Linked DNA regions of Homo sapiens. The protein of the gene in region 2 purifies or fractionates together with the protein of the main gene of each other region. This does not show direct contact. Each region holds a gene or a part of one and is shown on either strand. Other genes may lie near its edges. The genes, in order: NTM, DGUOK, MAP2 and HPCA.

Region 1 (7,027 bases), on a different chromosome or scaffold from region 2:
CTCAGTTTACTTCTTAGTACAATAAGAAGGTCGAAGAGGAAACGCATAAGTGAAACAGAATTTCTAAGTAAGGAAACCATATTTATCAGAAAAACACGCTCCAGTCTGCTTGATTCTTCTTTCTTGGAAGAAGGGGAAAGCCAGCTCTATTTCTTCATGAGTTTGTTTTTCCCCTTTGTGTCTTAGTTCTTTCATCTGTAAAATGGGCTACATGAATATAATACATCTCACTAGAAGCTGCCAGAATGTGTCCTTAAAAATTTTTTTTTAAAAAAACAAAACACTGCTTTTCATTTGGGAGGATTATGATAAAACCCAGTGAATCTTAAAACTGATTGACGTGGTTCTAAACAAAATTCAATTTTCGATCTAGAGACTAGAAAGAGCTTTAGGTTTCTGACTGACCTCATAAGGAAACAAAGCCAAGGCTGGCTGAAGACGTGCACACAGCGTGGGCGGCCATTCACTTGCTCCTGGCCTGCAGTTTCTCATGCTGCTCTCCTTCTCAGAATGCCCTCTTCATTGTTTTTCCTTCTCAGCCTCCTGGCCTCCCCCACTCCTTGCTCTTACTCCACCCCACATACACCTCAGGACTCTCTAGCATCCCCTATACCACCACCTCTTTTTCAATGAAAATGTTCTGAACACAGGCAGCTCTTGCCCATTTCCCGTTGTTCATCCCCCTTAAAAATGGCTCTTTGATAACAGCAATTGCCATGGTGCCTGGCTGTACTGAGCTACTGATCCCTGCACTGATATGTCATTTGATAAAGCCTGGAAATGATCATCTTCAGTGACTCACAACAAATATCCCGAGGATGCTGTGACAATGGGAAGGAAGGGAATAGTCCCTTCTCTTTTCTCCTACAGTAAAAGAACAACTTGGGCACAAAGGGAGGGCTAAATTGGGTCATGGACTCTTATACACCGCTACTGATAGTGTCTGGAACAGGAGGGGAGACCTACTAGCTGCAGCTAACTTATTAGCCACTCCCAGGGCCCTGAGAGCCTTCCTAACTCCTTTACGCAAGCCTGAGAATGTGGTAAAAATAGCTTCAGGCAGAACACATTATGTTCTTGGCCTATAAAAAATTCACAGGCCTTACAATGCTCCTGGTGGCCTTTCCTTTGTGATTTTGCCTTCCTAAAAAAAGTTACCTTTCAGATCTGTTGGTTGGCCAGTGATAATTCTACATGGTGACATTAAAAACGTAGCTGAAATCCATTAATGTTAAGAAAAGACTTCTTTGCACATTTGCCCCCTATAGAGATAAGTTCAGAAGAGGATTTTATAGAACTCGTTTGCAACAATGTGGAATCAGGACCCTGGAAAAGTTTCTCCTGGAGATGGGGGTAGGGGTGGGATAGGAAAGAAGGAAGCTTTACCTTTTGTCATCCTTGTACCACTGGAATTCTGCTGAGGGGACTGCTGAGGCTTCACACTGCAGTGTCCCCTTTTGTCCCACGGGGACACCTGTACCCTTGGCTTCTGAAATGTATGGTGGATCTGCAAAAAGAAGATGTCTCATAGCCGCCCCCCCACCTTTTTTTTTTTTTTTTTTGAGATGGAGTCTTGCTCTTGTGGCTCAGGCTGGAATGCAGTGGCATGATCTTGGCTCACTGCACGTTCTGCCTCCCGGGTTCAAGCAATTCTCCTGCATCAGCTTCCCAAGTAATTGGGATTACAGGTGCACGGCACCATGCCTGCCTAATTTTTGTATTTTTAGCAGCGACGGGGTTTCACCATGTTGGCCAGGCTGGTCTCCAACTCCTGACCTCAGGTGATCTGCTCGCCTCAGCCTCCAAAAGGGCTGGGATTACAGGGCACTGCACCTGATCTACAGCATTTTAAAATGAAGAAGGCTGCTTCATTTGTTGATTTTGTTTCTCAGTCTCTGCCCTGGCTCTGCTTACTTAGAAGGTAAAACTGCTACATAAATTGTACCAGAGAATAAAAACCTTTTTGATGCCGCTCTAAGAAAAAGCTGGGTCTTCCTTTCATGTACTGCTTTTGTTCTCCTCTGTACAGAGTTGAAATGACCATGTACTCAAGCATTTTTTCTGTTTAAACTTTTTAACTTTCATAGGATGATGCCAGCCCATCAACCCTACACTCCACGGGTTGACAGTCAGCACCTTTAATCAGCCTTCTAGAATTTCTGCACACCAGGTTCTTGCCAAAAGTATATAACCTCGAACTATTCAATTCCCATCAAAAGCTCAGTTGCAAGAAATAATATTCAAGGAGAATTGCCTGAAGGATATACAGATCAGTCATTCTTGGTATTCTAAAACAGATCCCTGAATCAAACCAGAGCAAGTGACCAAGCTAGGCCTACGCACTTGGTTTGCATTCATTTGACGTCTTTACCAAACTACTCTTCACATTCTACCAGTTTATATTAAAGGGTATTATGAAAAACAGCCACAATAAACTGGCTATTCTATTTAATGCAGAAATATTGTACATGATGTTGCTGACTCTCTCCCAAAGTGCTCTATTTGTGGAGACCCTGAAGAGAATTTTCTCTAGGGTCTCAGTACCACGAAAAGCAGTGTTTCTCCCAAGCAACTAATTTGCTTTTATCTTATGGACAACATAAATCTTAAAGCAGGTGATGTTTCCCTCTTTGCTTTAGCAAGGCTGAGCCAAATTCTGCACCTGCACCTAGCAGTCTTGTGGTAATATTTCATGTGCTGAGGTTTTCCTAGCTTTCACTCATTTTCCTAAGCGTATTTTTTCTTTGCTTCTGTTTCTTTATGTTTTAAGTTCATCTTTATAAACTGTAAATCCTCTTAAGTCCCTTTGTAAAAACTTGTGATATGATTTTTAAAATGACAGCATTTTTATACCTATTGCCTTGCTTCTTAAACCGCTTCATATTGACTGGGTTCACATTGTAACACAAACCTAAATCTGAAAGACTGGATATTCTCCTAGATACAGTATCCTTCTCCTAACTCCACGCCACCCAAGTTTTGAAGGGAAGTCATCTCGTTTGCCGATTTAGTTATTGAGTTCTATTGCTTCGTAAGTCTTCCTGGAATGTGCACAGCAGAGAAAACCTCCAGAATGTTGTAGGGAGCTAAGGCAAGGTACATAATGAGGGACCCAGAGGGAAAAGAGTGAAAGGAGGTAGCAAATTCAAGTAGGATTGATGTCAGAGACAATCTGGAAGGCTGAGAAAGGAGAATGAGGGGTCCACACAGCACCTTCCAAACTTTTTGGATTCTGTATCTCTATTAGTAACAAGCAAATTTATTGTTACATCCTCTAAGATCTATATCGTAACTATTTGTATGTATACCATGCACATCTATAATTGTAAAATAATGAGATATAATAGACATACCATAAATGGAAGTTTGAAACTTCCTTCATACACTCTAGCACATGGTTTCTTGTCCCATTATGGAGATGTCTGGTCTAGACAGTGAGAGGCTCCAGCACAACTGTATTGTGTGAGTAAATTATGGGAAAATTTTGGATTTGAAGACGTGTTTAAAAAATTATGAGCTGAATGCCATTTAATGATCTGCCAGCCATGCAAGTCAAGTTTGGCATTATTTTCAGTTACTTTAGCTACTTTTTCTTTCAGCGTGACACTGTGACACCTTGAAGTGTCAAAAACTCGAGTTTGAAATGTTTGCTCCTGAAAGCAGAGTGTGGAAAGTGGTGCTGCATTCTTCCCACCCTAAGTCAGTAGCTGGCTGTGCCAATGGGCTCTGGGTGGTGGCTGTGACAACAGGCCAGCCTGATGCACGTGCAGGGCGCGTGGTGGTGAGAACACTTACAGTTCACGGTGACCTTTACTCTCCGTACCACGGGCGCGGCCACGTCATTGGAGGCACTGCACTCGTAGTCCCCTGACTGCTCCCTGGTGATGCCCTGAATTTCCAAGTATTCGTCTTCACTCACAAAGCCAACCGCTGCGGGAAAACCGGTAACGTGTGGTGAAATACAAGGAAAAAAAAGACCAAACATGTTCACTTAGAAAACAAAGTATAAAATGGTTATGTCTGCAGATAATTTGCCAGTTGTAAGTTCAGATTCTGAGGAACTGTGTGGGTTATCCCTCCTCCGTCTCTTCTACACCTCCGCACCACCAACTTTTCCTTGGCTCCCCAGTGGAACAGCTGAAATGTTTGTGTTCCTAACTGAACAAAGCACAGTGCCTAGAGAATTACTGGTCCCAATAAGTGATTAATAATTTTGACATTTACACTGCCTGTATCTTACCAAGCCGTCGTGCTCTGGGATCTGAGTCAGGCACCTTAACTCTTTCTGATCTCAAGGTATCACTTAGACTGAGCCTTGAATATAAAATTTATGACTGCACACTTGAGCATAAATTAATTGAAAATGCCACACCAGCAGCTACATACACATACACACACACACGTGCATCACAAAGGTAGCAGAAACACTAACATAAAAAATTTAATTTTCTGTTTTTTGACTCAGACAATTAATTGGATAGGCAGAAATCAACGTGCTAAACTTCGATCTGCTAGAGCTCCTAGGTACAAGATCCTAAAGACAGACCAGCAATGGGACTCCGCACTCGATGCCTAGTTGTAAGCATGTCAGAGATTCATCAGGCGACGTGGCTGCGAATCCACTCAGTCCCCTAATCATTGCGGGACTCATTGTCTTCAGTGAAAAATTATGAGTAATAATAACAACGCTTCACATACCAGACTCTGTGCCTGACGTCTGGCCATGAGCACTCAGTTATTGAAAGACCAAGATATTTAAGGCTAGAGGAGATTTCAAAGTTCTCTCCCAGAGGCACCTGAGCCTTCGCTTCCTTGCCAAAAGACAATGAAAAACAAAAGTTAGGGCTTACATCCCAAGCTATCCTCCCTTCTCTCTTAAATGAGGGTAATTAGAAAGACAGCATCCTAAACCTGGATACCTTTAAAAGGAAATGAGGTGCTAGTAATTAATGATTATTAGCAGACAACAGGCATAAGGCTGTCCCTAGCAATTGAGAAGCATTTTCCCAAACATAATATACATACAATCCTAATACCTCACAGGGTCACGGGGCTATTTAGACTAACACACAAACATGCCTACATATATATGTACACACTCACACACACACATGCACGAAAGCACTCCAAAACTCTCGTGTGCTGCCCACCTGTTGATTTAGTTATTACTCCTATAATCTGGTTGGAGGCACAGCTTCAGGGGGTGCAGCACTGTATTAACATGAGTGGCCCAAGAAAGGGAACAAAGGGACATTTCTCTCCAGGTGAGAAAACCCTTCCATAATGCCACGTGTTTCTGCTGGCCCAGAGCACGAAAACAGTAGCTGTAAAAAACCGATACAACAAGGGATGATGTGTGCGGTATGTAAGGGATGATTGTATGTGTTCCATAACAGTGTTGAAGTCACTGTTTTGTCAAGATAACCACAATAACAATAACAACAGCAACAACAACAAGACCATGGTCTTGTGAACAAGGGCCACTGCCTTGTTCCATTCGATCAGCACTCTTTGGCCATGATAAGTCTGTGCCACTGCCCAGCAGTAGGCCCAACCGGGGCCTCATCTCATACATCTTCATGCCATATGCAAACTACACTATGTATGTACAGACGGTTTCTTGCCTCTGTTACATACAGAAGAGGAAAAGAACAGCCTATGTCCATTACAACAAACAAGAAAGAGATACTAAATTCACAAGACAAAGAAGGAACCTCTTCATAAGTAGAAAACACAGCCAAAAAGACCAGGATGTGAAGAGGACAAACAACATTAACCCAAATAGACTCATAGTTCCTACCAGTAAGACACTTCTAATGGTCTCAGTAGCCTTTATGAATATTGTTTGATAAGCATCTTTAGGGGAAAGGTACTAACCTTGATTTGAGGATGGGTGGAAGAATTGAGAAGAGCTTTAAATGAAGAATCTGTAATTCCTCTTGTGTTGTCCTTGTTTATTTGCTACCAACCACGGGCTTACATTTGTCAGATCTTCCCCTGCCAGAATGCTATAATTACTGTGCCAAGCATCTCGGAGACCAGTGTCACACTTAATATTCCCATTAATTTTAAATGGTAGTCCTTGGTACATATGTGTGGCAATTGGTGTCATATTTTAATTAGGCTTGCCCTACACCATCTGAAATTAATAATAGCTCGAATTACCAGTGTAATTTATAAATTAACAGTGCCGCAGCATTAGGAAATAAATTAGCTCTGGACAGCTGTTTCTGGATTGAGCTCCAGGGTCGGAGCAGGGACTGATAGGACCTCAGGTCTCCTGTGAAGCTGTGTATTACATCACCAAAGCGGGGAAACAAACAAAAAGACAGAGGTTCTCTGGATCTCTTGTGCTCTCCAGCTAAAGTTCATGCATCTGTTTCAATTCCATAATTCAAATATGCTCTTTTGTGGCCACAGCGAGATTTGCAGGGGCCAACTTGTCATGGACATCCAAATGGAAAGGCCTGTTGGAGGCATGACAGTCCTGGACTGAAATGCAGTTACACAAATATTAAGGCAGTCAAAATCGAGAACTCATCAGTTTTCTGTGGGGACATGGGTGCCACATTAATTTATGTGTAGTTTTGTATATTTATGTCAGGTGATCTTGTGTAGGAAAGGACGTTGGGTGGCTCAAGTTTTGGGGAAGGCGTATGGTCTCTACTGATCCAAATTTCTAATTCCAGAGAAAGGAGATTTTTCCTCAAGTCATCCTGCAGGAACAGTGAGGCTTAATCCTACTTTCCTATGTTCCCTGGACCAAATGTGCAATCCCAGAGAAATCACAATGACTTCATTGCTCACCAGTTATTACATGTACACTTTTTGATTAAGTTGGGTAAGGCATGTAAAAAGTGACTTGTACATAGTAATATGCTTAATAAATTTAAGCTTTCATTGTCATTATGCTCACTTTTCTCCTCACCCACCTTTTTCTCTACTAGAGGCATATATGGCAAAACCAGAGAGAAAGTTGGTCAGTTTACACATAACAAAATAAACTTTGAACCACCCAAAATCAGGT
Region 2 (7,027 bases):
CAAAGTGGGTGAATCGCCTGAGGTTAGGAATTCGAGACCAGTCTGGCCAACATGGTGAAAGCCTGTCTCTACTAAAAATACAAAATTAGCCGGGCATGGTGGTATGCCTGTAATCCCAACTACTTGGGAGGCTGAGGCAGGAGAATCGCTTGAACCTGGGAGGCGGAGGTTACAATGAGCTGAGATCGTGCCATTGCACTCTGGCCTGGGCAACAGGAGCAAAACTCCATCTTAAAAAAAAAAAAAAACCTGAATAACTGAGGCAGAAAACAGTTGTCCAATAATGATTCCCCTCAAACAGTACTGAATCCATATAATCTTAAAGATGATTTCTATCATACCTTCAAGGAATAGATCATTTCTATGCTAGAAAAGATGCAAAATTTCTCCATTTATTTTCATAACATTGATGGTAAAACCTGTCACAAACTACACATGGGCCAGGCATCACAGCTCACATCTGTGGTCCCAACACCTTGGGAGTCCGAGGTGGAAGGGTCGCTTGAGCCCAGGAGTTCGAGACCAGCCTGGGCAGCAAAGTGAGACCCTATCTCTACAAAAAAAAAAAAAAAAAAATTTTTAAGTAGATGGGGACAGTGGTATGCACCTATAGTCCCAACTCACCAAGAGACTGAGGTGGGAAGATACCTGAGTCCAGGACTTCAAGGCTGCAGTGAGCTATGATCATGCCACTACACTCCAGCCTGGGTGACAGAGGAAGACCCTGCCTAAAAAGAACCCAAAAGTCAAAACAAACAAAAATCACCATACACACAAATAATAATACCAACCAACTGTATAAATAAATATACATGCAAAATTCCAAACAACACATTACCAAATTAATGGAATAGTACATCATGACCAAAAAAAAGTTCATTCTAGAAATGTGAGGATGGTACCATTATTAAATCTATGACTAATACTAAGAGATTAAAAAGAAAAACCCCTTGTTTATCTCACTAGATGCTAAAGTGGTTTTTGATGGAAATTCAACATTTGATCATGATAAAAACAGTTACTATTCTAGTAACAAAAGGGTACGTGTACCACACGGTCTACTGAAATGAATAATAAACATTAAACTTAACACTGATATATTAGAGGCAGTTTCATTAATGACAGAACAAGATAAGGAAACTACCCTCACTGCTATTAGTTTATATTGCTCTGGAAGTTCTACCCAATGAAAGAAAACAAGAAAATAGAAATGTGGCACAGATATTAGAAAACTCTTTCAAATGATTACTATTTAGAGACAACTATTATTTTCCAAAACTTCAAGCAAATAAAAAAATAATGAGAAATTAAATCATATAAGATAAATATAACAATCAACTGTTTTCCATTAAAACAGCAATAACCAGTTTCAGAAGATGATGTGGAAAAAAGATCTCAGTCACAATAAAAACAAAATATATATTCTGCTCAGGAATAAACAAGAATACTACTGGCTAAGTAGATAACCATTTGTGAAAAAACTAAAGTCTTATAACTTGTAAAGCCACATAAAACATAAAACCATAAAAGCAACAAAAAGAAATAGATTATTTTTATACTCCTGGGCTACAATTTTAACATCAAAGGTGCTAACTATGAGGAAAAAGAAGGACAGGTTAGACTACATAAAAACTGAAATGTATTATATTGTAAAAATATATTATATACCAAGATAAAAGAAAAATGACATGGTCGGGCGCAGTGGCTCACGCCTGTAATCTCAGCACTTTGGGAGGCCAATTCAGGTGGATTACCTGAGGTCAGGAGTTCCAGACCAGCCTGGCCAACATGGTGAAACCCCATCTCTACTAAATATTCAATAATTAGCTGGGTGTGGTGGCAGGCACCTGTAATCCCAGCTACTCAGGAGGCTGAGGCAGGGAGAACTGCTTGAACTCGGAAGGCAGAGGTTGCACTGAGCCAAGATCACACCACTGGACTCCAGCCTGGGCGACAAGGCGAGACCCCGTTTCAAAAAAAAAAAAAAAAAGAAAATGACAAACAAATATATGACAGAGTTAATATACTTAACATACAATGAGTTTTTATGAAGCCATTACACAAAGATGAAGATCTCAATAGAAAAAAACAAGGCAAGGGGTTTGGACAGGCAATTCACTAAAGAACAAAAAGATACACAAAACATGGCTTTATATTAAAAAACAAGCAGTATAGCTACAATGATATTCATCATTGCAACACTGCTTATAATAGGAAGAAATTAGAAAACTAAACATTCAAAATAGAGGACTGGATAACTAAATGATAATATTCATATTATGCAGTACACTACAACCATTAAAATGATATCACTGTGAAAGGGAGATCTTGTCTATTAAGTGACATACAGGTGGCAATCAAAATTTTTGTTTCAAAAAGCAAATGTATATATATTTTATACATTTATGTAAGTATATGTAAATCTATACATTTTCTCTGTAGAAAAATGTCCATTTTACTTCTGAATAATGGGATTACAGGATGATTAGTTATCTATTGCTGCCTAACAAATTATGCCAGAATTCAGTGGCTTAAACAAAAACATTCATTATCTCAGTTTCTATGGGGAAGGAATTTGGGAAGGAGCTTAGCTGGGTGGCTGGGCCTCAGGGTTTCTCATGAAGTTTCAGTCAAGATGTTGGCTGAGGCTACAGTTGTATGAAGGCTGGACTGTGGCTGAAAGATCCAATTCCAAAAAGACTCACGTACCTGTTCACAGGAGGCCTCAGTTCCTTCCGTGTGGCCCCCTTGAAAAGGCTGCTTCCTGACATGGCAGCTGGCTTCCCCCAGAACAAGATGGAAGCTACAGTGTCTCTTATGACCTACCCTAGAAAGGTATTTCTTATTTTTGCTACTTTCTATTTACTAGAAACAAATCACAAAGTCCAGCTGCATTCAAGGCAAGAATTACGCTCTACTTCTAGAAGGGAGGAATATCAAACAATTGTGGACATGCAATCATGTACCACTTAACAACAGGAATATGTTCTGAGAAATGTGTCGTTAGACAATTTTGTCACTGTGTGACCATCAGAAAATGTACTCACACAAACCTAGATGGGATAGCCTGCTACACACCTATGCTATATGACACACCCTATTGCTCCTAGGCTACAAAGCTGTATCGCATGCTACTGTATTGAATACTGTAGGCAACTGTAACACAATGGTAAGTATTTGTGTATCTAAACATAGAAAAGGTACAGTAAAAATATGTTGTTATAATCTTATGGGGCCACCATTGTATACAAGGTCTATCATTGACAGAAACATCATTATGCAGCCCATGACTGTATTTTGAAATACACACAGGTGACCTGTGGCATACTCAGAAAAAGATATGTAATTTATTCCTGCATAGGAAAGTTAATTTCACAAATACACACACAGGCACACATACAGACATATAAAGAGACAACTTAAGCAGCAAAAATCCTCAATAGGCATGATATGCCAGCCACAAAAGGTAACACAATTCTGGGTTGGAATAAAAAAAAATGGCACCCAGAACAAGTTCCATGATACTCTGTCCCACTTAGACTACATCCAGAATGTCCTGTTCACCTCCAAGTAGCACTCTTAGTAAATTCAAAGTGGAAAGTGAACAAACTAGGACTCATCACTTAGGTAAAGTTACTTCAGAGTAAAGAATAGCCTGGAGGAAAACTGGAGGTGTTTGGCTTGAAAGAGAGAAGACTTGACCAGGCATGGTGGCTCATGCCTATAATCCCAGCACTTTGGAGGCCAAGGTGGGTGGATCACTTGAGCCCAGGAGTTTGAGACCAGCCTGGCCAACATGGCGAAACCCTGTCTCTACTAAAGATACAAAAAGTATCCCAGCATGGTGGCATGCACCCATAGTCCCAGCTACTCAGGAGGCTGAGGCATGAGAATCACTTGAACCCAGGAGTTGGAGGTTACAGTGGGCCGAGATCACACCATTGCACCCCAGCCTGGGTGACAGAATGAGACTGTCAAAAAAAAAAAAAAAAGGAGAGAGACTTGAGGGGGAGAAAGAACAGGAAAATCATTACCTTCAACTATATATAGGGTTGTTACGGCGAAAAGTTAAAAGACTTAAGAGGTAGAACTTGAACCAATGAGTCAGAGTCACAGGGGTGCAACATGGCTCATTAAAAGGCAGAACTGTTTAGTAATTAGAGTTAAGAACCAGAATGTGCCACTCAGTGAATATCCCAGGTGGCGGCAGGAGCAGTTCATGGTGCCTGAGGAGGCATGGTGCTTCTGCTCCCTCTAAGGGTCATGTCGAAACAAGTCTTTCCTTACTCAGACTGATGTGGCTGGAAACCAACTCTATGGCCTCTGCCAAAGCCATAGTCTTGACACCAGGGCCTAAGCCATGAGGTGTAAGTGAAATGTACTGTGCTTGGCATAGTACAGTGCCTGGCACATAGTACATGCTCATAAATGTTAGCTGTAACCTCTCCCATTGACTCAAAGTGTGACTGGAACCTCTCTAATATCCCTTCTAATTTCTAAGACTTTATTTAAAAAGTTAAAATCACTATAATTAGCTATTAATCCTAGTGGTTAGCTTAAGTAATAATATAAATACTTAAGTGTAGGAATGACAAAATTCATCTTCAAAGCCATCCATGATGGTTGGACATGCTTTGGGAAACCACAAACAACAGAGGCAGTCACTTAGATAGACATATAAAAACCACAAAAATCAAAACTGCACATATTCAAACAAGTCATATCCTCTCTGGTGTATGTGGTCTGCTTTCTGGAATGAAGCTATTTTAAAAAGGATACTCAAACTGGGCTACTTTACTCACTGAGAGTAAATTAAATTATGACAATTAGATTATTCACCCATGCCTGCCAACTACCCACCACAACTAAAAACTTACTTTTTGGGTGCCAGCAGCCTGGATATTCTGCCATGTTGCTACAGGTTCTGTAGCTACGTGCCATTCTGGGTAAGTTTTCGTGAGTAACTTCACAAACGTGGACTTTCCCACAGCTGCAATGCAAATAGCATGTATTGGGATGCTTCCCAAATCAGGGCTGAAGGAGAAGGCTGCTACTAAACTCTGCCACAAACGCCCAAACTCAAGGGAACAAGTATTAGTTTTCTGAATTTCAAACTCAGCAGCCGTACCATTGTCAGACTGATAACAGATCAATTCATGCTAACCAGAACCACCATAATGAATACAGCCAATAGGGAGGAAAAATTCCTTTTAAGATTTAATTTGCAATTTCCATGTCTCAACCTTCCAGAGGCAGAGCATTTAATAACAGTTGAAAATGTAAAAGTAGATGAAATCAGCTCCATAAGTTCTATCACTTGAGTCACCATTCTATTTGTACTGTGACAGTGTAAAATTTCTAAGTTTTTCAAGACAAAAAATAAAAATGATTATAATCTCATTCATTCAACAAATCTAAAAAATATTCATGGAGTGCTGACTATGAGCTCAGGACTGTCAGGAACTGTGGGTACAATGGTAAACAAAACACAGAATGGATTTTGTCGTCACAGAGCTTGTATGGGTGATACAAACGCACAATTAACTACTAACATATTGTGTTAGGTGCTAGGAAAAAATGCAGGATGGCACTAATATAGCCCAGGAGGTCAGAGGAGACTCCCTTGAAAAAATGACATCTGAGGTAAGACCTAAAAGATGACAATTCATGCAAAGGGAGTAGCATATGCAAAGACCTGAAAGAGAGAAAGAACTTGACACACAACAATACAGAAGTTTGAGGCCCTAGAAGAAGCCATACAGTATGGCTACAGCATGAGCAAGTGATGGAGAAGTGGCTCAACATGGGTGTGGCCAGACAGGGAGTCCAGGGCCAGGTCATACAGGGCTTTGTAGTTATGGTAAGAAGACTGAATTCTATTCTAAGGGCAATGGGAAGTTAGTGAAGATTGGTTTTAAGTAGGAAAATTATAAGACTCCTTCTCATTTTTAGAAGATCACTCCACTAGCTGTGTAAGAATGGGCTGAAGCAGAAGCAGGCAGACTAGTTAAAAGATATAGCAGCTTGCCCCGAGGTGATGGCAGAGGAGTGAAAAGTAGTGGTTGTTTCGAGAAATATTTTGGAGATGAAATCAACCTAGTACCACAACATTCAAGTTATCTTTTCCCATTTATACCAATGTTTGGCCCATACCTCCATGAGCTCCAGAGACTATTCAAGAACTCTCCAGACATCTCCACTTGGGACATTCCACAAACACCTCAAAGTCAACATATTTCCTAAATGAACTAATCATCTTTCCCACCAAATTGAGCTTCCTCCTGTATCCCAGACCTCAGGGTATGAACACACCATCCACTCACTGACAGAAGTCCCTCCTCTGCCAAACCTCAGTGGCCACCAAATCCTTCTGCATTTGCTTCTACATTTTTCATATTTGTCCTTTTCTCTCCATTCCCACCTCCATGCTCAAGACCAGCCTCTTATCATCTCTTGCCTTTCTGATGCTGGCCTTGCTCTCTTCAATCCATGCTCCATACTGTGGCCAGACTGAATATGAAATAACACTGCTTACAATCTTTTGACAGCTCTCTATCGGCTAACTGGCTATAGCAAGGGCAAGCAATGGAGGAGTGGCTCAAGATGGGTGTGGCCACATGGGCAGTCCGGGGCCAGATCACATAGGGCCTTGTGGCCATGGTAAGAGGTCTGAATTCTATTCTAAGTGCAATGGGAAGTTAGTGACATCTGAGCTAAGACCTGAACAAGCTTCATGACAAACTCCAAACTCTTTAACATGGTCTGCAAGACACAAGAAGATCTGATCCCTGTGTATGCCTCTCTGGCCTTGGCTTTCCTTTAGGTAGCCTACCCTCCTGCAGGACCAAACTCCAATCATGCCATGTTCTCTTGCAAATATGACTTTGCATATGCTTTCCCATTTCCTGAAGCGCCTCCTCTCCTCACCTGACCAACTCTTACTCAATCCTCAAGGTTCTGTTTAGATGAACCTCCTGTGTGAAGCCTTTCCAGATCCTGACACCTCTAAGCTGGATTAGCTAGTCCT
Region 3 (7,027 bases), about 140 Mb from region 2:
CCATTGTCTACCAAAGTGCAGGTAAGCACACCACGTAATTTTTCTATTGATTACCAATGTATCTTTGAATCACTAGTACGTAAGGAGATCCTTTAGAACAGAAGTTACAGAATAGCAATGTGAATGTTGCAAAATTTAAGAAAAAGAACACTGATTGGTTTCTGGGGTTCACATGATATATAGAAGAGGGTTCATAGAGATTTCCAAACCCTCTTCTTGTTCTGGAAGCCACTGGCATAACCATAGATATTTCGGTATTTTACATTTCAAACTGTCATGATCAGCTAACCCCTTTCCCTTTGTATCCCTTCATTTCACAATATGAATGACATACTTGTTTGATGTGAAAATGCCACATGAGAAGGGAAGAAAAATAGCTTGTCAAGAACAGAAAACACGAGAGAAAATTTAAGTTCAGTAAATACAGAACATGTTCTACACATGCACTTCCTGTATGAAATTATTACCACATCTGTTACTGTTGTTTCTCTTGCTGCTGTTTTATGCTTCTGGATTCAATTTTAAACTCCATTATCTCTAGCACATTTTGGTTGATGACTTACCTGAGGTAGCTTAGCTCTCATGATTTAAAACAATCCCTTGTGGTTTGGAAAACCATCTATGTTTGAAAATTGGGCTTAGAAGATAAAATAATCAAGCTTGTGTGTTTATTCCTCCTTAATTTTCATTCATAAAATAGAAACCCTCAGAAAAAAAATGTATCCTTATAAGCCCTCTGAATAAGTTCTAAAAAGGTATTTTTATGACAGGTACAGTTCTGACACAAACATAATAACTGTCTACAATATGCTTTATGCCATGTAGGACTAGCTAGTGAGATTTTTCAGATTCTAGGACTCATTGTTTTTAAGGAAGCAGTGAAAACGATGCCTTACTACTATCTCTGTAATATAACTCAAATTCTTGTGACATGTATAGCTTGCTTCAAACCAATGACACCTACATCTGATACATGCTTTCTCCTAAAGTATCTTAACATTAGACCAGAATAAAGGAAAATCTTCATTAGTTCAAAGATTTTAAATTTCTTTCAAAGAATGAATAAAAACACAATTTACTTTAAATGTGGCAAATTGAATACCAATGACATGTAAACACTTTACTAAACCATTTTACGTTTTCTCTAAAATTCCACAATCCTGATGACATCTTTCATCCTTTTAGGTAGGTTATAGAGTTTTTATGCTAAATCAAGAGATTCTGCTTGCCCAAGCAATTTTGCTACTAAGTTTAATGAAGCTATTAATTTGCTATTAAGTTTAATGAAGTTCTAAGTTTAATGAAGCTAAAAACCTGAGAAAATGAATTGAGGTATGTCACGTTAATTCCTAACTCCTAGCTTCAGATATATTCTTCATCCTGAAGCTTTATCAAGGTGTGCGTATATACAAGCCTTCTATTTTCAAATCCTGCCTTAGATTCTTGTTTTTGAAGGAAAGCACATGATATGATTTCTAGATGAAGAACACAAATACAAAATACTTGGAATTTTCAATGGCTAAAATAAAACCATCAGTTACCTTGATTTTCTCTTTCTCACAAAGGCTAATGTTCCTCTTAACCTTTAAAACCATCCGAAGATTTATATAGAGGCATTGATGATGTACAATGGAAAGAAAAACATTCTTTTCTGATTTAGCAATCTGTCATTTTGTAGACTACAAGCATGCCACTTAATAAATGCTAAAATAAAATATAGTGTAAGGTAAGATTATCCTAGTATAATTAAACATATAAAATAAATACTTTGCCCTGAAATTTAGAAAAAAGTTGGCATTACAGATATTTGTAGGGGTTTTTATGATGGTTTCCAACAAGTTTCATTCCTTTGTTTTACCAGTTTTATAAACTTAGGAAAAAATATGTATTTGAAGAAGAGTAATAAGTAGATAGCAGGCCGGGTGCAGTGGCTCATGCCTGTAATCCCAGCACTTTGGGAGGCTGAGGCAGGTGGATCACGAGGTCAGGAGTTCAAAACCAGCCTGGCCAAGATGGTGAAACCCCGTCTCTACTAAAAATACAAAAAAAAAAAAAATTAGCTGGGTGCACGCCTGTAATCCCAGCTACTCCGGAGGCTGAGGCAGAAGAACTGCTTGAACCCAGGAGGTGGAGGTTTCAGTGAGCCGAGGTCGTGCCACTGCACTCCAGCCTGGGCGACAGAGCGAGATTCCGTCTTGGGAAACAAAAAAAAAGTAGACAGCAAAGTAAAAATAAACCGAAGTTTATTTCTAACTGAAGTTCCTCCTAAAAGGAAGAGTTTTAGCTTCAAATTTGTGAAACTAAATTATATAGAAAAGTCGAGCAGTTTGGATCCAACATATTTAAGAAATCTCCATGACAAAATGTCAGCTAAGAGATGTAGTTCAGTAGAGTGAAAATCTTGTTAATTTTGGATATGAGGAATAAAATCTGATATAATTACCAGAAAATTTTGTTTTCTATCTTCTTTTTTTCAGCAAAAGCAAAGTAATAGTAATTTTGCAAACCACAATTTCACTTCCTGGCTTGCTTTTCATTTTCAGTATCTAAATCACTACACATTCTTGGTGGTTTTCAATAAATTCATCAACATCAGTAACAGATTTGGCAGTAACAATGTAGAAAATAGGACAAATATTTATGGGTTTAAGCATGAGAGAGATAAATAAGCAAAATAATGAGAATGCATACCACAGTTAAATTCATCGCCATCGTCTAACCAAACACACAGAATGAAAATAGGAATCCCCAGAACGTGACACTAGAGCACAATGCCAAGATACAATCACGCACTGTTATGTCTGAGCATGACAAAGAAACAGATGGTCATGACCTTTTCTGTAAGGAGGGGGGAAAAAAGAATAATGATACAAGACACTTAATAGCAAAATTGTTCATGACTGCTGAGATTCTTGGAAGAAAAACAAAATGAAGAAGCTGCTACAGTAATGAGATTTAAAAAAAAAATACATGTCTATGTTTGCCAGTCACATTGCAGAATTGAACAGTCACCTGTGGTTTTCCGCTTAACACAGGAGAGATGAGTTGGTCTAGTATATTTGATAGCAGGTTTTAAAATGAATTTCCTGGAGGGAGAGTGGGCCTGAACTTCTGTTTTTTTAGCAAGTTCAGCCTTCTTATAAACTGCTATGAATAAGAAAACACAAAAAGCATACCATCAGGAAAAAATAAACACGTGGAGCAAAACCGAACGAAATTTTATAAATAATTAGTTACCACTGTTAGGCAGTTCTGCAAAAAAGTAATAATGAATTACTTCAAAAACATTTTTAAAGAAGTGATTGTTAAATGAACCTTTTTTCCTTCTCACTTCATCTCTGGAGACTGTGCTAGGTTCCTTTTTAGCTACTTTTCTTTCAGGAGTGGAAATTCTGCCTCTCCCGGTTTTAAAAGGCTTTTCTTTTCTATGTTTCTCAAGAGATGATCTCCGAGCTTCCTTTTCAGCTTTCTCCTCTTTAGGAATAGTTTCTAACTGTTCTGTCATGATGCTCCTATCATCATCTGTGGATCAAAGCAAATCATGACAACAACAACAACAGTGAAAACATTAGTAACAAGTGTACAAAATCCTTTGTATATTTAACAAAATACAAAATAAAGAGATAAAGAGGTATTTTAAAATGTTTAAGTGAAAAAAAATTCCCATAAGGTTATTGTGTTTGAGTTAAAATAATAATAATAATAATGCACACCTTGAGTGTCCACCCAGAGGCTGTCAGCGTCCATGATGGAGTCGTCAATGGTGGTCTCATCTTTGTAATCGTCATAGGTTTCTGTCTTATATTCAGAAAGTGCAACCTCTTCTCTCTCAGGGGAAGCTGGAGCCTCTGGGGAACCATCTTTGGGTTCTGCCTGGGCTTCAGCTGCCTCTTCTACTTCAAACTCTTCTTCATCATGAGGAGATGGTCTCCTTTCCACCTCAGGCTGCTCTAGGGCTGCAAAACGCACGCTGTGGGACCCTGACTCCCCTTCATCAGTTGTGGTTTGCACTACAGTGATGAAATCATCCTCGATGGTCACAACAGACTCAATCACTCCTTTGTGTTCACTTGGGCAGGTCTCCACAAATTCCTCCCTGGCACCTGAGACACCCAGGTCAGTTATCTGAAGGGTGTCTGAGCGGAAGAGCAGTTTATCATATTCTCCCTGGGCTTCTATCTCTTCTTCCTCACTCTGAATCTCTGCTGGTTCAGATACGATCGTTTCATGCAATGGCTCTGCAACATCAGAAGGCGTGATGGATATATCTGGGGTCTCTTTGCTTTCTTCTTTTGGCCCCTGAATAAATTCCATCTGGACATCAGCTCTCTCATCTGTGGCTAAATCAGCCTCTGAAACAGCAGGTGGGCAAGGTATTTCCACTGACAATTTGACGGCAATCTCATCTTGAATTAGAGATGATTCTGGAGATGTTTCCTTCTTGCCCTCATCAGCTTTCAAGGACTCCATGGTGAGACTTTCATGCTCACCACTAGATTCATAGGACTCCTCCTTGTCTACAGCCTCCTGGTGCACCAAGTCAGGCTTGGCCACCTTCTCTTTGACTTCTGTCTCACTAACTTTAGTGCCTTCTTTCATGTGGCCAGACTCAACACCCATAAATGCATCTGCCTCCTGCGGTGCTTTGGATGAGGGGGTCATGTCCTGTGTAGCCTCAAGTTTTAGCTCTGTTGCCCTTCTATCATCTATGTTTAGCCCTGAAGCCATCTGTCCAAAGTCACTAATTTTAACATCTAGTTGACCCTGGACAGCAAAATCCAGACCTTGTTCCACCTTTTTGGATGGTTCTACCTCAGCTATCTCTGGCACTGAACTAAGACCCTTCTCTGCTTTCTCAGAGGATGCATCTGTTGGTATTGACAAATCTTTGGCCAAAGCTTGCTCATAGGTTACTCCTAATCCGAATGTTTCTATTTCATCACCAGCCTCTTCAGTTTTCTTGGCATGTTCTTTTGAATCAGCATGTTCTTCACTCTTTTCTAGTACAGTATCCAACCTATCATTAGCTTTCTTCTCTTGGTCAAACTCCTTACTCAGTCCTGATTTGTCACCAGAGATATGCGCGGATGCTTCTTTGTCAACACTGAACTCATCTTTGACTCTTCCGGCTGCTGCCAGTTTCACTTCAATCAGTGAAAGGTCTGTGGCCAAATCTCTTCGAACTTTATCATCAGTGCCTTCGTAAAAGGTACCACTCTCCCCTGATAAATTCTCACTGTCTTGAACAGGTGATGGCAATGGGACTGTGTACTTATTGAACACACAGTAGCCCAGGTCTTCGAGCTGACTGTCCGTTTTTACAATGACATGGTTTTCATCAGTTACCGGGGGCAAGCCAGTACGACTATCCTCAACCACAGTCTCTGATGGGACTGATTTCCTCCTGGCAACCTCAGCATCTGCACTCACAGAAGCCAATCTTGACCTTGTGCCTGCCAGATCTAGCATTTCAGGAAGGTCAGGTGCCATGACAGTACCATTTTTGTAAAAATCTTTGGCTAGGAAAGGAGACTCACATGATATCTCCGCTTGAGTACTTTCTTCTCCAGTAGCTTTTACTTTCTCTATCTGTTCTTCCTCTTTGCTTTCTACAGGGAAGCAAGGGGCTTTCTCCAGTGCAGGTGTGGTGGCTGGAAGGTAATCATCCCCTTCATCCATACTTCCACTAGTGTTGGTTAGAATATCGGAAGCCAGAGGAGAAAGATCATGTCCCCGACCAAAGTTAAATCCAAGGGCTATGGAATCTAGGCAAGACATCGGCAAATTGATTGACATGCTTCTTTGTTCTATTGCAGACCTACCACCAAGTCCTAAACTCCTGCTAAGGGTCAAATCATCCTTATTCTTACTGTGGAGGTCCCTTTTCTCTCCATACACTTTTGGATCAATAGTGAACATTCTTTCTTGAGGAGAACTGGGTTCTTCAGGTAAATCTGATGGATAACTCTGTGCGAGAGTGCTGTACCCTGCTTCTTGTGCTGGAGGACTGGGCTGGGATTCTTTTCCTGTTTGAAACTCCTTGTCACCATTTTTATGCATGGGAGACATGGTATCAATAGACTCATGGACACTTTCTCTAGTGTCACTCAGTTCATAGTAATCACTGCCTGGCTCAATGCTTTTTGTTGCTTCTTCTTTCAAGGCAGATGTTTCAAAGTACTTGGACATTCCTGATTTATCTTCATAAAATGGCATATCAAGCTCAGCTGATGTTGCAGCTCCAACTCCTTCAATCTTATCTTTGTCATCAACTCTCATTTCAAAAAGTTCCTGAATTGAGCTCTTTTCAATTAATGCAGATGGTTCGGTCATGGCTTTCTCCAGTGTTTTAGAGGTCATGGCTGAATCTGTAACTGCTTGCTCCAAACTTACAGGGAACGAGTCCTGTTTCAACATATCTGTGGTAGGCTCTTGGTCTTTCTGTTCTGAGAAAGTGTGCTCTGTGGAGGTCTGAATTATGCCTATTTCTTCATCTGCAGGTTTTGGGGGTTTACTCTCTTTTGGCACAGCTTCTTTGTCAGAAATGGTGGTTTTTTCTTCAAGCTTCAGCTCAGTTTCCTTTTCAGTAAGTATAGGTTCCTGTCCACTGGGGGTGAAAGTATCCCTTTGCTGCACAGTCTCTTGATTTATGGCCTCCTTTTCTTCCTCTAAAACTTTCCCCATAACATGTTCTTCTACAACTGGAATGTGAGCATCTTTGGGTAAGGTCATTGCCTCTGAGGGTGGTGCTTCTGCCATTTTGTCAGGTTTAGCCTCATGGGGCTCTTCAATTTTAAAACTATCTTTGGCAGTAGCTGGGCCACTGGTTTGTTGCAGAGATTTTTTGTCATCTGGCTGTAAAAAGGCAGGGGCAAAGGGCGATGTTTCTGTAACTATTTCATTCTTCATGACATCTAAAGGAAGAGTGAAGCTTCCCCCTTGAAAGGGACTTGGCATGGGAGAATCAAACTGTTTCCCTTCCCATTTTGGGATATCATCAAATACATCTTTTTCCCTCATGGGAGTC
Region 4 (6,979 bases), on a different chromosome or scaffold from region 2:
GGTATTCGGAGACCCCCAGGCCCCCACCTCAGAGCCCGCTGTGCTCTAGGCTGGGGTGGGCAGGGCCTTTTGGAAAGGGGTGGCTTGGGGTTTTAATCACTTTTTCAATGTTTGTTTGTGTAATTCAGCCCCGAAATGCTTTTCCCTCCATCTGTCCCACCATCTGCTCCTGTCAGGATTTTCCAAACCGTTTGGGACCAAAGAGGCAACAAGGTGGGGGATGGGGGGTAGGGGATGGGGGTAGGGTGGCTGGGCCTCTGAGGGGGCTGGGGAGGGGCCACCTTCACCCACTTCATTGAGAGGTTTCCAGAGAGGGCCTGGGCTCCTGAGTCACACAGAACTGGGTTCAATTTTTTCTTTTTTTAGAGACAGGGTCTTGCTTTGTTGCCCAGGCTGGAGTGCAGTGGCGCAATCATAGCTCAAATTCCTCAAAATTCCTGGGCTCAAGCAATTCTCCCACCTCAGCCTCCCAAGTAGCTTAGACTACAGGCGCCTGCCACCATGCCCAACTAATTTTTGCTTTTTTTTTGAGACGGAGTCTCACTCTGTTGCCCAGGCTGGAGTGCAGTGGCGCAATCTCGGCTCACTGCAAGCTCTGCCTTCCGGGTTCACGCCGTTCTCCTGCCTCAGCCTCCTGAGTAGCTGGGACTACAGGCGCCCACCACCATGCCCGGCTAATTTTTTTGTATTTTTAGTAGAGACGAGGTTTTACCATGTTAGCCAGGATGGTCTCGATCTCCTGACCTCGTGATCCAACCCCCTTGGCCTCCCAAAGTGCTGGGATTACCGGTGTGAACCATCGCGCCTGGCCAATTTTTGCATTTTTTTGTAGAGACGGGGTCTCACTTCGTTGCCCAGGCTGAACTTGAACTCCTGGCCTTCAGTGATCCTCCCTCCTCAGCCTCCCAAAGTGCTGGGGGTATGGATGTGAACCGCCACACTTGGCCAGAACTGGGTTCAAATTCTGACACTGTTGCTTTCTTGCTGTGTTACCTCAGACAGGTGACTTTACTTCTCTGAGCCCCAGTTTTCCTATCTGTAAAATGGCAGTTAACATTATTGATTCCTCAGAATCATTGAAGATCCAGTGAGGTGACGTGTGCAGAGAACTCTATACACTATAGGTGCTTGAGATATCACGTCTCTCTCTCTCTGGCATCCCAGGAGCAGTTCTGTCCCTCCCTTGGTAGTGCTAGAGGAGGGTAGTCGGCCCTGATTTATGTGCCCTCTCCTGCCTCCTCAGATGCTGGGGACTTCCCCTCCCCTGGAACTTGCTCGCCCTTCCATGGACCCTGCCACTGCCTGGCTCTCTCAATTACCTGCCTCTGCTTCTACCCCACCCCTGCCTCTCCCTCCTTCTGGGTGCCTCAGTCTGAGGTGGGAGGGACTAAGTATCACCAGCAAGGACACAGCCCCACACACAAGAGGCTTCCAGGGTCAGGAGGCCTCATTCATTCATGCTTACATCACCTGTCTGAACTCTCTGCTCAGAAAGGGGAAGAGACTTGCTCTGGGTTGTCCAGATCGAGGGACCCAGGCCCGCTGCCCAGCTGCCCCTCAGCCCCCCTTTTCATGGCCATATCTTAGAGCACTAGGGCTTGGACCAAAGGCCGTGTTGTGCAGTGTGGGGAGCCCTGAACCTTCTTTGGCTGTTGGGGGGTGGGCTTGCAATGCTTCTTAGTCCCTCTGAAAGGTGCAGGTGGCTGATGGGAAGTAGCAGCAGAACCCACTAGGGCCCACACTCTGCCTCCAGAACCACCTACACAGTCTAGGTGCAGGGAAAGACAAAGGCAGGAGGGGCTCATGGGGATGCGAGACATGGCCTTGCCTTCCAAAACCCCTATCTACTGGGGAGACAGAACACAGACTGGGGGTCCGAAGGCAGGGCACCAGAGTCACCCTCAAAGAAGAAAGGTGGTTGGTGGTGGGGGTGGGGAGAAGTCAGCCCCTGAGGGGGTGAGCCTGCAGGAGGCTGAACTGGGGAAGTGGGGAGAAGGCAAAGAGGGAGCTGAGCAGCCCAAGATGGGGATAAACTGAGTCCCCCAAGGATAAAGAGGAGGATCCAGACCACTCAGGAGAGAGAGGAAGGGGTGATGGGGGAGGGGGCTGAGGAGGTGAGGGAGGGTGGGACCGTCTCCCCGACCCCAGCACAGCTGGCCCCCCAGGCCTGGTGGGGAAATGGGAGGGAGCTTGCCACTGGAGGGCCCTGGGGTGGGGGCTGAGCAGCGAGTCTCTCCCAGCCCCCAGGTCCTCACGCAGGAGGCAGCTGGGAACCACCCACGCTCATCTGGTGTCTCTCACGCCTCCACTGGGGGTCCCAACATCAGAGCCAAGGCACACAGTGAAGCCGGTGTTCCGGAGAGCCCAGCTGTCCCCACCCCACCCCGGCTCCTCAGTTCCTCCAGCCGAGACCTCCCCACCTGCCTCCAAGCAGGAGGGACTAAGGCTAGACTCTGAGGACTTGAGAGGCTCAGTCTGGGAGCCTGGAGGCGGAGCCCTGGGGTGCCAGGAGGGGCTGAGCTGCCGATGCTGAAGAAACTCTGGGCTGGGAAGGGCCCTCTGGGCAGATGGCAAATGCTGCCGGCTTTACCTGCGAAGTAAATCCAGAAACCAGACCCACCCCGGCCATCTCTCAGCCTGAAATGGCCCCTTCTCCCACCTTGCCCCCAACTCCTCAAAGTCTCTTCTTGACATAATAACCCAAGGAAGCTGTCCACATGGAGGTCACACCCTCTCACTCTGCTCAAAGCCCCCCAGGACTTCCCATCTCATCTGGAATAAAAAGCCTAAAGTCATTGTCATAGGCCCCAAGGCCCTGGATGGCCCCAATGGCAGTTACCATTCTAACTGCCACACCCAAATCCCAACGTTTAAAAACACATGTCTAATATCGACATGTATATTGTGTCCATTGTTTATTGTCTGCGCCTGTAGTCCCACTATCTAGACAGAACAATGCTGGCCGCAGAACTAGTGTTTTATATGTATTTGTGGAATGAATGGATGAGGGCGCACACACTGGAAAAATCACTTAACCCCTTTGAGCCCATTTCTTCATGGGGACAATAAGGACCAACCCCTAGAAATGGAAAAAGGACAAAATCTCAGCCCAGCATGCGGAGAATGTTGCTGAGGCTGGGGGCAGGAGGAGCTGGGCTAGGGGTCATCGACTCTGGAGAGGAGCTGTGCGGTCGGCAGGCAGTGGGTAGGTGCCACAGGATCCCCAGGCAGATGTTCTGCCCTCCTGTCATGGCCTGCACAATCAGAGGCTGGGGAGGGAGGAAGGGAGGGGGTTTCCTTGATTGGAAGGGGGAGTGGGAGGAGCAGCTGACACCAAAGTTGGGAGGTGGGATTAATTCTGAGAGGGGGGTCGGGGTGAGGTCTGGAGTGGTGGGTTTGACATGGGGGCCGGCTCGCCAAGGTGGAGGTGGGGAAGGGGGCGTGTCTGGTCCCCTACCCCGAAGACCTCAGTAGCTGGAGGAATGGGCGCTCCACGCTCCCAGCTCCGTTAGTTGGGAGTTGAGGCGCAGGAGCAGGGAGGGTGCCCAGGGTGCCAATTCGGCCCTCGAAGCGACGTGCGGCTCAGAGCCCAGGTGGGTATGGGGAAGGAAGCGGGGCGGAGTGGCCTGGGATCGCCCCCGGCTCAGGAGAGAGACCTCTTGGCACTACCGTGTCCCTCCATTCCGGCCACCAGAGCCGAGGTGCCGAGGAGAGGGGCGCCGCGATCCTCCTCCCCGGGCAGGGTGCTCCCTCGAGGGGGACCGGGGAACTGAGGGCGTCCCCTTCTCTCCGGGGCGGGGGTGGGGGGCGGAGCCCAGCGCGCCGCTCCCCAGCCCCCAGGGCTGGCGGGGACCCCCCCAGGGGAGGGGCTCCGGGTGAGCGCTGCGGGGCGTCTCCCTCGCAGTCCCGCCCGCCCCTCCTGCCGCCCCTGCCGCGCGCGCCGCAGCAGCGCCGCCTTCCCTGCGCAGTCGGTGTCTCCGCGTCGCTGGGTGAGTGGGGGCAGCTCCAGCCGGGGCCGGGGGATGAGGGCAGGGGGTTCCCGGAGCTGGGGGCCCACGTCCAGGGCTTCCCAACACCGCCGCTCCCGGGCTTCCCGGGAATCCTTGCCCCGGGTGGCGGGGGCGCTGGGGACTGGGAAGCGCGCGGTGCTCTCCAGGGTCCTGACCGCCGAGTGGCCGGCCCCTAGGAACCGCGTTCGACCGCCCTGGAGCGCCCCCTCCAGGAGGGGCCACGCGCCGGGCGCTGTCCTAGTGCTGAGCGGATGGAGGCGGGGGCTGGGGGACAGAGCTGAGGGAGGTTTGGAGCGGGTCCCCGGGGCTGGCTTCTCAGGTCGAGCTGAGGGGGTTCTTCCCATATGGGGGACTGGAGGTCTTTGCGGGCAGCTGAATCTTCTTGCAACCGGGAGGGGCAACTCCGAGGGTGGCAGGGCCCAGGGGGCACTGGAGGAGCTCTCTTGCTCCGCGCATCTCTCTGCCCCCACCCCGGTGACCCAGTTCCTTGGACCTTGAGGAGGGCAGTGCGGGACATGCCCCAGCCCTTCTCATTTCCTTAGCCCTTTCCCACTCACTTGTCCGGTGGGTCCTTAGCCTGGGCCATAAGAGGCTGGTCTAGAAAGGAGGGGCACCAACTTACAGAAACATGCATGTGACACACCGCCGAGGACACACACGGGTCCTCCAAATGGCCACACGGGCTCATTCCCTCACGCTGTGACGGGTGCATACCTGATCACATGCACATCTGAGGCACATGCAGGGACATAGATGGAAAGACACGGCAGGCAAATGCAATGCAAAAACCAGCGGCACACATCATGCATGAGCACATGCACTCACAACACACCCATTCACATGTGTGCAGAGCTTCATGCACATGTATGCACAAGGAGGCCCCTCCTTGCCCTAAGTGGGTGGGGGTCACCTGCACACACGCCTACATCCTTGTGCAGAACTGGCTGGCTGTTTCCTCTTCATTGCCTTCTACTCAGCCTCCACAATCTAACCTGCACTCAGGGGACCTTTCAGGACTAGATGAAGGGTAAGTGTTGGGGAGGCTTGGATGGGCTTGGTGGGGGGTCTCCTTGGAAAAGGGGCCCCGAGCAGGTCTGGGAAGGTTTGCAGCTCCCTCTCCTGGGACCTGGCAGCACCCCTGGGAAAACAGAAGGAAAACAAAGAAAAATGGCAAGGGTGCCTGAAGGTCCCACGTGCAGCTGGCCATGTGAGAGGTGTCGGCATGCGAGTTGGCGTGTGATGGCATGTGTGAGACATGTGGGGTCGTGGGCTGGTGTGTCTTGATGCACAGGGTATGGGAGTTGTGCGTGGTGCCATGTGTCGATTCGTGTGAGTTGTGGAGCAGAGGGAATGTCGTCATGTGTGGAGGCATGCTGACCCATGGGTGGGCGTGGGCTGGTACGTGAGTGGCATGGGATCCAGGGTGTGGATCTGGTGAGCTATGAAGCATACAGTTATCGGTATACATTCATTTGCACAGTTTTTGCATGAGTTTTGTGGCACCTGGGTATATGTAAGTCATTTTTATTTATTTAACATTTATGTAGCACTTATCTATGCAGCCATGGTTCTAAGTGCTTCACACATATTAACTAATTTAATCCCCAAAACAATCCTCTTAGGTAAGTACTGTTATTACCCCACTTTAAAGATAAGGCAGAGAGAGTTTAAGGAACTTGCCCAAGGTCACATAGCTGGTAAGAGGAGGAGCTGGGATTCAAACCTAGGTGATCTGACTCTGGAGCCCACAGTAACACCTCCCTCTGCTGCCTCTTGTTGGGCACACCTGTCAGAGGGAGAACAGGGCAGTGTCTGGGCTGCGGGTATATTCAGTGCTGAGCAGGCACATGTGAGGCAATGAGAAGGCAGTGGGTAGGACGGAGGAGGATCAGAAGGTTTTTCTGCACCTCTGTGGGCAACTCTAGGAGTCAGCCTCATAATGCCATGGCTGTGTGACCTGAAGCAGCCACCTCACGTCTGTAAGCCTGCCTTCTCATCTGTAAAATGGGGCAAATCCCCATACAACCTGTTGCGAAAGTGAATTGGTGTGCATTTGTGAAGGCTTAGTGGCTGGCACCTAGAAGGGCCTCAGTAAATGTGAACCACCCTTCCCTTCCTCCCTCTCCCAGGAAAGCGTATGGTCCAGGGAGATGGTGTGGAGCATGGCATAGATACAGGATGCCTGGGTCTAGGCTGTGTGACCTTGGGCCAGTTCCTCTCTTTCACTGGGCCAAACAAGAGGCAGGGATGGCTGTTGGCAGGGGGGCCCATCTGGAGCAGTGTCTAGTAGCCAGGAGGGCCTGATCACTCCTCTCTGCCCTTGACCCCCTTGGGGACCCAGGTGGGACTTGGCTCGGCGGCCATGGGCAAGCAGAACAGCAAGCTGCGGCCCGAGATGTTGCAGGACCTGCGAGAGAACACAGAGTTCTCAGAGCTGGAGCTGCAGGAGTGGTACAAGGGCTTCCTCAAGGACTGCCCCACAGGAATCCTCAATGTGGATGAGTTCAAGAAGATCTACGCCAACTTCTTTCCCTATGGTGACGCCTCCAAGTTTGCCGAGCACGTCTTCCGCACCTTTGACACCAACAGCGATGGCACCATAGACTTTCGGGAGTTCATCATTGCGCTGAGCGTGACCTCGCGCGGCCGCCTGGAGCAGAAGCTCATGTGGGCCTTCAGCATGTATGACCTGGACGGCAACGGCTACATCAGCCGGGAGGAGATGCTGGAGATCGTGCAGGTGGGCCCCTGGGCCCCTCAGAATGCCAGGCACAGGGCCCGGCAGCTTGCACCCACCACCCCTTTTGATCCTCTCAGCAGACCTCGTAGGCATGTGGTGGCAGGGGATATTCTTGCAATCCCATTTTAAAAATTGTTTTTAGGAAATATTTCCCATTTAAAGAAAAGTTGAGAAAACTCCCCTATACCCTCTACCCAGATTCACCAATTAACATTTTCCCACAGTTGCT

Evidence for each region.
Region 1: the proteins of DGUOK (region 2) and NTM purify together in Homo sapiens (affinity purification with mass spectrometry; 3 studies listed by BioGRID and IntAct, with this or other methods). This does not show direct contact.
Region 3: the proteins of DGUOK (region 2) and MAP2 purify together in Homo sapiens (affinity purification with mass spectrometry; 3 studies listed by BioGRID and IntAct, with this or other methods). This does not show direct contact.
Region 4: the proteins of DGUOK (region 2) and HPCA purify together in Homo sapiens (affinity purification with mass spectrometry; 3 studies listed by BioGRID and IntAct, with this or other methods). This does not show direct contact.

What each region holds. Positions count from the first base shown.
Region 1 is NC_000011.10:132,304,592-132,311,618, reverse strand, and holds part of NTM (neurotrimin isoform 9 precursor), read right to left. Parts: intron 5,325-7,027; exon of another isoform or gene 5,151-5,324; intron 3,931-5,150; coding exon 3,796-3,930; intron 1,508-3,795; coding exon 1,387-1,507; intron 1-1,386.
Region 2 is NC_000002.12:73,936,873-73,943,899, reverse strand, and holds part of DGUOK (deoxyguanosine kinase, mitochondrial isoform a precursor), read right to left. Parts: intron 4,991-7,027; coding exon 4,878-4,990; intron 1-4,877.
Region 3 is NC_000002.12:209,693,037-209,700,063, reverse strand, and holds part of MAP2 (microtubule-associated protein 2), read right to left. Parts: coding exon 3,714-7,027; intron 3,523-3,713; coding exon 3,316-3,522; intron 3,148-3,315; coding exon 3,013-3,147; intron 1-3,012. UniProt on the Homo sapiens protein: The exact function of MAP2 is unknown but MAPs may stabilize the microtubules against depolymerization. They also seem to have a stiffening effect on microtubules.
Region 4 is NC_000001.11:32,882,527-32,889,505, forward strand, and holds the start of HPCA (neuron-specific calcium-binding protein hippocalcin), read left to right. Parts: upstream 1-3,964; 5' UTR 3,965-3,989; intron 3,990-4,971; exon of another isoform or gene 4,972-5,037; intron 5,038-6,351; 5' UTR 6,352-6,372; coding exon 6,373-6,750; intron 6,751-6,979. UniProt on the Homo sapiens protein: Calcium-binding protein that may play a role in the regulation of voltage-dependent calcium channels. May also play a role in cyclic-nucleotide-mediated signaling through the regulation of adenylate and guanylate cyclases.